Homo sapiens: one gene and its partner. The protein of the gene in region 1 purifies or fractionates together with the protein of each later gene. This does not show direct contact. Each region holds a gene or a part of one and is shown on either strand. Other genes may lie near its edges.

Evidence for each region. The genes of interacting proteins can lie anywhere in the genome.
Region 2: the proteins of SERPINB11 (region 1) and SIL1 purify together in Homo sapiens (affinity purification with mass spectrometry, with the first as the bait; one large-scale study listed by BioGRID). This does not show direct contact.

Annotation. Positions count from the first base shown.
Region 1 is NC_000018.10:63,701,461-63,706,120, forward strand, and holds the start of SERPINB11 (serpin B11), read left to right. Parts: upstream 1-1,499; 5' UTR 1,500-1,546; intron 1,547-4,660. UniProt on the Homo sapiens protein: Has no serine protease inhibitory activity, probably due to variants in the scaffold impairing conformational change.
Region 2 is NC_000005.10:139,020,161-139,024,076, forward strand, and holds part of SIL1 (nucleotide exchange factor SIL1 precursor), read right to left. Parts: intron 1,133-3,916; coding exon 1,011-1,132; intron 1-1,010.

The DNA of each region.
Region 1 (4,660 bases):
CCCTTTTAGTTCTGTGTGATTGGTTGTGTACAGTTATTTTTATGATAACCTTGTGGGCAAAATGGGTATTAGGACTATAATTTTAGAACCATGTTTTCTGGTTCTCTTGTCTTGTAGAACGGTTTAGTTTCAACTAAGAGAAGAAATATTGTGCACTGAAAATGAAGAGAAAATCACTGGCCATAAAGGAATTTCTTGTCTTGAGTGCGGTACAGTCTGCCATCATTGGTTGGCAGGGGTAACAACCTGGGGAGGCTGGACTGTGGATTGCATGGTCAAGACTGGTCTTTGAGAAGCTGGGCTTTTCTCGTAATACTGATTCTGCCTACTGCACACCCCAAACATGATCTGTCTCTAACTCTCATTCCTACCTCTAATCTGTAATTTTTCTTCCTGGCTCCTGAATCATTACTCAGCCTCTGAATTCACTTTAGGTAGGGCTGGCTTCTTGCTCCCACCAAGCTTTTAAACTGAAACCACAGAATAACTCTTGCTTGAGTTATTACTAACTCGATAACTCTTGTGTTTTTTTGTGGGACAGGATTTACCTGCTAGTAGTTTGCTGAAACTCCACATAAAAACATATGCTGCATGCAAGAGAGCCCAGAAGATCTTGGGATGAGTGTTCCTCAGGCCAGGAAGCATCTGCCACAGCTGGGATCTTTCCTACTGAGTAGCTTTGCACCATGTGCACTGACACTGGAGATCCCTGGAATTTTGCATAGGGCACTGCTAACTTGTTGGGTTGATGGCAATCTCTTTGACAGACAGCGTATTTTTCTTGAATAGAGGCCAGGCTTGTTAATGTTTTCCCTTAGTAAAACAGAAGGAGGTTAAGAACTGGGTGCAGGGCCGGGCATGGTCGTTCACGCCTGTAATCCCAGCACTTTAGGAGGCTGAGGCAGGTGGATCACGAGGTCAGGAGTTTGAGACCAGCCTGACCAACATGATGAAACCCTGTCTCCACTAAAAATACAAAAATTAGCTGGGTGTGGTGGTGCACACCTATAATCCCAGCTACTCAGGAGGCTGAGGCAGGAGAACTGCTTAAACCCAGGAGGCAGAGGTTGCAGTGAGCTGAGATCACACCACTGCACTCCAGCCTGTGAGACTCCATCTCAAAATAAATAAATAGAAAAAGAACTGAGCACTTCTCTGAAAAGCACTGGTCATCTTGGGAGTCTCTGGGGATCTCATTACAAATTTTATTTTTATTTTTTAATTTTTAAAATAGAGATCAGGGTCTCACTATGTTGCCCAGGCTGGCCTCAAACTCCTAGCCTCAAGTAACCCTCCCACCTCAGCCTTCCAAAGTGCTGGGATTACAGGAATGAGCCACCATGCTGGGCTCTGGGGATTTAAAGAAGCTCTTGATGGACTTCATTTTCAGGGCTGTACTTTCCAACCAGCAGGTGAAGAGCTGAATCACTAAGGGCACAAATGAAAAGGGAGGGGCAAAATATGAAGGCTTTATATTTCCTTTTGAGGGACGCAGCTCCAGTCTAACTTGCCACTCTGTGAACTTCACTACTGGAAAGCAACAAAGGTAAGAGAAATGTTTCTGTACGTTATTATCTCAGCTGTGCTTGTTGTCAAAGGGGACAATAAATAAGAGTAAACTGTGGCATTTGGACAGGTTGCATAATGAACCAAATGAAGGGGCAACTTATTATTTAATTGAGTATGACTTTTGCTGACCCCTTGATAAATACATTAGCATACTTGGATGCCATTGATAGTGTGCATTTAAAAATCTTTGAGGCAGGCTGACTTGATTTCAGATCTTTGTTTAGTAAAATGGAACTCCGTTGATATTTTCTACTTACTAATCTTCATTCAAAACACAAGCTAGTCATGCATGCTGTGGCCTCTGTGTATTGACACACTTCTTAGCTCCTTAGAAGATCTTAACTTACTATGCTAGCCTTATTAATTGCTATGTGTTGGAGACAATTTCTTTCTTTTTCTGCCTCTCAGTTTCCTCTTATAGCTTTAAAATTAGTCTCCTAAGTAATATGTGTATTCTGTACATGCAGGTAAAATATAATGGTTTATGTTTATGTGAACATTCTGAAATTCCTACTATTTTTAGGAATGAGCATATGTGAAATTCACAAAGTTGTAGGGCAGAGAGTAAGAGTAAAAGAATAGCTCTGATTTAGGGAAAGAGAGGTAGGTGCTAGATAAGTGGTCATGAGAGAAGAGTCTTGTGAAAGGGGAAGAATGTACACAGGGTATGGTACATACTGTAAGATACTGGTGTCTTAGCCACCCTTGGAGATGTATTTCCCCCAAAAGGACAGAACCAGACCCTCCGTCTGTTGCAGTCCTTCAGTGTCAGTATCCCTTCAGATAAGATAAGATGTGTTCCCTTCCACACGTATCCCAAATAGAGTTGTCTCTTCTGGAAATCCCTCTTCTCAACCTCAAAGGGCTACAGTGACAGATATCCTTCTTTTCTTCGTTTCTGTCATAACAACTTCCAGATGACACAACTCATTTGCTTGAAGATTTTTTTTTTCCAAGACACAGCCAACATTCCCTTACCACGTGAGTGGGCTGTTTTGGGGGTCCATATGCATCTTTGATAAAATTCTGGGTGACTTGGGACTTCTGCCTTCCATAAGTTCTGCTTCCCTGAAATGGGCTAAGCAACATTAATTAGACTAGCTGTAAAATATCCAGAATATTGGTTTCCCTAACAAGTATTGATTCCTGGGTGAATGTGGAAGACACTGACAATTTCACAGAAGAATTTTCTCTGCCCTTACAGAATGTTCAATGTAGTGAGGAATACCAACATATTAAATGAACCAAAATCTATAAATCCATCCATACACACCTCTGCACATGAAAAGACAATCACCCAGATGTAGAGGGAATTGTCAATAAAACTAGTTAAATATATGGTTAACATAGAAACTCCATTGTGAAAGATCTCTGCAAACAGAAAGGTAGAATTTTGGAAAATGAATGAGGAAAGCCCGTGCACTTTGGCACTACATTAATACTATAGTTAAAACTCTGTCTTGCCAAGAAACAAAGTTCATTTGATATTTAGCATGTCTATTGGCAAGACAGAGTTTTAATATTATTGATTAGAATTTGAATTATTCTAATTCAAACTATCATTAATACAAAGTTCATTTGAATTAACTATAATTATGTATTGCCAATGATTTTTGAGAAAAACCTGAACCTGAAGTATTCTTTCTTGGTACTATGAGTTCAATGCTTGAAGAGCTGTAAGATCCAACTGTGAAGTGAGGCGAACATCATCACTCACCCTGCAAGACTCAAGATTCTGAATAATACACATATAGTACTGGCACATACATGAACCCTGTAAGTTGGCCATTTCCTTTACAAAGAAATTCTCACACAGCTGTGTAAGGGAGTAGGTGTGCTGATATTCATCATGGCACTGTTTGTGGTGGCATGAGGAAGGAAACCATTTGGGCATCTGCCATCGGCAAATGAATGGGCAAATTAATATGGTGGAAGCAGAAGAATGCAACAGTTAGAAGGTACGGACTATATTCCCAGAATAACATGGATGAATCTTAAAAATATAGTACTAGGTGAAAAGTATGTGAAAACTTGTATTTTTTTGTTTTTCTTTGTTTTGTTTTGAGACAGGGTCTTACTCTGTCTCCCAGCCTGGAGTACAGTGGTGCAGTCACTGCTCACAGCAGCCTTGACCTCCTGGGCTGAAGCAATCCTCCCACCTTAGCCTCCTGAGTAGCTGAGACTGCAAGTGTGTGCCACTGTGACTGGCTATGTTTTTAATTTTTTTGTAGAGACGGGGTTTTCGCCACGTTGCCCAGGCTGGCTTCAAACTCCTGGGCTCAAGGGATCCACCTGCCTCCGCCTCCCAAAGCTGATGTTAAGTATTATCTAACATAACTTCATTTATGAAAATTTAAAAATGCGTAAGATAAAGAAATCAATGTTTTACAGGAGCACATATACATAAAAGAATATGCTTTAAACAAATTATAAGTGGTGTCTATGGTGGTGGAGAAGAAAGGAAATGAACTGGGTCAAAGGCCATAAGTAAAGAAGAGAATGGCCTTCTAATCCAGTCATGGCTTATGCCAAGAACCAGAGCATGTGATGACCTCAACCTTGTGTACTTGTGGTTATAAAAGAAGAAACAATCAAATAAACAGACTAATAAAAGTGTCTGGCACACAATAAGTGGCCTATCAGTGTATTCCAAACTCTTTTCTTAGGTGCTCTAGTAACTGCAGGGCTACAATAGTTATGATATGTGAATAGGCGATTTTATAACAACAACAGGACATAAATTTAAGATAAATAAATTCACGTTACTTTCCAGAATGCAACTCCACTAGCTTACTTAATTCACTAAAATGCAGAACATAGTGTGAAGAGCAACTGACTTGGATATACTTCACGATTGGAAGTGCTTTCATTATTAAAGTAACTAAACAAAGGGCTGTCAAAGACACTGTTATTACCACACATAATACAGAGAGCTGTATTAAAATCACCTTAAAGGAAAACATCCTGTCAAAGGTACAGAATTGTATTTTAGCAAAATAAGATGAGTAAAACCCTTCTGTTATATTTTTTAAAAACTGTCAAGAGCAAAGAAAACTGTGGTCCAGGCTTGGTGCTGTATAACTACTGGGTC
Region 2 (3,916 bases), on another chromosome or scaffold:
TCCAGGCAGAGTGGTGATAACGGAAACAAAGGCCGGCAGTGCCTCTCCTCATGGAACAACTCCTCCAGCTTTCCCAGCTCTGCCCTTCAACTTACTAAGAAAATATGCTGAATGCCTTTCAGAGTGAGAGAGCATCAGACTGAGATTCTGATTTAAAAAACAAGCACAGATAAAGCACAAAGGAAATCTTCTCGAAACAAAGCCTATAATGGTAAATATGTTCAGAATAGCTTTTCTCCTGTAACATCGTGACCTGCATCTAAGCATCTAATAGCCTCCACCCATGCCCTTGCAGCAAGAATCAGAATATTTGTTCCTGTTTTAAAGGCACAAATGGTCCTAAGAGCAGATTTTCAAAAATGGGAGGAACAATAGCTCCAATGGACCAATTGCAGCATGCAGATATCTTGACCTTTGCAGGTGGTGTAGAATGATGTGGTGCCTACATATCTTTTGGCATCTACTCTTTCGAGATGCTACCTCCCCACTCCTCTTGCCTTATCAGTCTTCCATCACAAGCCAGACTAACTGAAATTCTCAACAATTTCCAACCTAGAGAGGGCGATAATCTGACGGCATGTACATTGGTTCCAGACAACTAGGGCAAGACACATTCCTCCCTGAAAGCACCCCCTTGGTCAGGCTCATCATTTATTCGTCACTAGATGTAGCTTTACTGCCAAAAGACCTACTCTTGTTTATTCCCCTCCCTCTCTACTATTTATAGTTGGTCTAACTTTTTACAAGCTTTGAATAAAACAGAGAATGTGACCTAAGATGTGTTATTAAATGTCCATACACATAAGATGGGGGAACAGAGAGTCACAGATGGTGACAACATGGGTAAAAATTCCTATCTACTTGGAATAAGGGCAGAATCAAATTTTACTCTAGTTTCATTGAGATGACACTGAAATGTCAGTAGCAACAGGCACATTCAAGTGTACCCTTCTTCCAAGCAGATCAGGCCAAGCAATTCTGGCCATTGGGACGTCCATTATACTGCTCACCTGGAAAAGGCAGCGCCCAGCACAAACGCAGCATACTCCTTCACGAGGGGCTCTGTGCTGTTCAGCCCATTGATCACCACTTGAAGACCACCAAAGGAAAGCAGGTCCTGCGCATTGTCCATCTGCAACAGAGCCACTGCTTAGTACAGCATAGCCATCAGGGACAGGAAAGCTGTTCTTAGAGCCTTTCTTTTGGTGACTACCCAAAAACAAATTAAAAAGCCATGGAAAAATCAATAATGGCCTTTTTGACTAAGAAAAGGTTTGTAAAAACCAATTTTTTAATACTCTTAAATTTGAGAACTCCTAATTCATCTAACACGATTGATGAGCACCTGCGTGGGAATCAGCAGAAATGACACCTAGCTATTGCTTATGCCAAACATGTCCTGGAAAATTCTAATATCATAATGAGTCACAAAGCTTGCTCCTAATGTACAAGCTGTTAACACAAAGAATCTGGCGTCATCAGCACCACTAAATGGTGCCATGCTTCCTGCTGATGTCCAATCCCAATGGGGACAGTGGAGGCAGATTTTTAAAGCTGATTTTAAATTAGAAGCTAGGGACTATAAAAGGAGCCCTGTTATTGGGAGGGGGGTTGCCGTAAGAGTGCTGGGGAGGGGGGAATAACAATAGTACCTTTCTCTTGCATCTCAGGTTGACTGCATCTGAAGACATTCATGATAAAATATGCAAGAAAATCGCTCTCCCAAAGGTTTCTGTCTAAGCCTGTGCTACTGGCTAGTGGCTATGTATCAGACAGTGCAGAACATTTCTATCATTACATAAAGTTCTATTCAACAGCATTGGTCTAGGCTATCATTTAAGCTCCAAATCCCCAAGTCCGGATTCTCTCTTTTACTCTATAGCGGATCTCATTACCCACAGTTTATTAGTACCCTGGAACAAGACAACTCGCTTTCCTCAGAAAGGTCACTGGATCCTGTTTTCTACATGTACCCGCTACAGTCTCCCTCGAATATATCTTTGTTGCCACAAAGGCTGCATCTTGCCCATATGCTAATCCCACGCTATCAATCATGAGGAAAACTCAGGAAGCTGAAGCCCAACAACTGTGGCTGCTACCCATCTTTCTCCTCCAGATTCCACAGGGCCCCTTCCCAACTGCATCCTTGCCTCTCTGAACTAGGAGAGGACTCTGACAGAGAAATCAAGTGTGAGGATTGGTATTTGACTGTGCTAGTGTTTTGTGGTGGCCTAGCCTGTTGTTGCCACTTGAAAAATCATATTCATACACATTTGGATGGAATCTCCATGACAGCAGGGGTTTTGTCTGTCTGTCCACGCTTGTAGCTCCAGGGACTAGGATGGTGCTGAGCATATGGTTAGGTGTTCAATGAATAACTGTTGCATTAATGAGTATGAATTTGATCAGAAAAGAATGTTCCTGAAATAAAGCTCCAGTGTGAATAAAAAGGCAATCTGGGGTATCTGTGCCAACAAAATGAATGGGCCTCTGGTACCGCAGACATGAAGTAATGGCTAAACCAGGTTGTGAAGTAAGCATGAAGTCTGCTCTGCCATGTGGCCCCAGGCCATGGACATTTTTCTGCCCCAAACTGTTCTTATGAAGAGGAATAACTGGTTGAGCCACAGCCCAGCTAACTAGGGAGACTCAGGGTTGGGTGCTTTGCTGACATAAGCACCTTCCTTCCTTCCCTACATGCTCTAATTTTACAATGTAAGAATTCACTACCTATTCTTTGGTTGTCCTTCCTCTGGGTTTTCTGGATACAAAACTATGGCTCAGAATCCTGTCATACCACGCCTGGAATGGCCACTTATAAAGCTGGTATGAGTTCCTAGCAGAGCAGCTGCCACTCGGTCAGCTCCAAAGCAACACAGCCCAGAATCATGGACCTTCTGTTCTAGAGTCAGTTTATCTACTATTACTACAATGATAATTCAGCATGATAGAAATGCAGACATTTATATAAGCACTTCAGCCTTTTTGGGATGTTTTCTCATGGTTTACTTCACTAACAGTGAGGAAGAAACGATTCATTCTGCCCAGTGCACATCAAAAGCTGGGCCCCCCCCTGGTGACATACAGGAGAAACCATGACCATAGCCCAGGTCCACAGCTCCCCATCTCGGTCTGGGGCCAAAACTGTTCTCAGGCTGCCTTCGGGGTGGGGTGGGACAGGCAGAGAGGAAGAGGAGGAGGGAGTGCAGGAGGGAACTATGCCAACACCCTGGAGGAAAGGAAAGAAGCAGGGCACTGATAAGACAATGAGAGAATGGGAAACAGCGAAGGGGAAAAATGGTGGCACACAGCTGAGGAGACACGTGGGAGAAGGCAAATGTACTGCCCGAGGTAGATGGGGCGGACGGAGGCCGCTCCTCATAAATAACTCACCATCTGTTTCCACACACAAGGTTTTGCTTTTCACATATCCTGTTTAATAATTCAAATATGGCTGTGAGGAAGCCTGGCAGACCTGGTTTGGGTCCTTGGAGCCTACAGCTCCTCAAACCACCATTCAGTGAGTCTGGAATGAGAAAGGACTGGGGAAGTTCCTGGCTAGGAAAGTGCCATCTTCCTTAAAACTAGTACTACATCACCCCAAGCCCCCATCACAACTGGGACTCGGGCCGAGTTGTGTCTTACTTAATCCCCCAGTGAAATCACAGCTTAACATTGCTGCATGGCAGCCTGATGCACCAGCCCTTCCAGTCAAAACACCAATGATCCAGAACATTTCTCTGCCAACAGACAAATTTGGCTTCTGCCAGGGACTGATTTTGGGATGACCTCAGGATGGGTCTGGTGAGGTGGCCTGTGAAAGCAGAATGGGGATGTCACCTTAGGGAAGACACTGCCAAGTGACAAAGAGCCTACAAGGGAAAACAAAGAACTTTGTTGGGGCAATGCTAGCCCA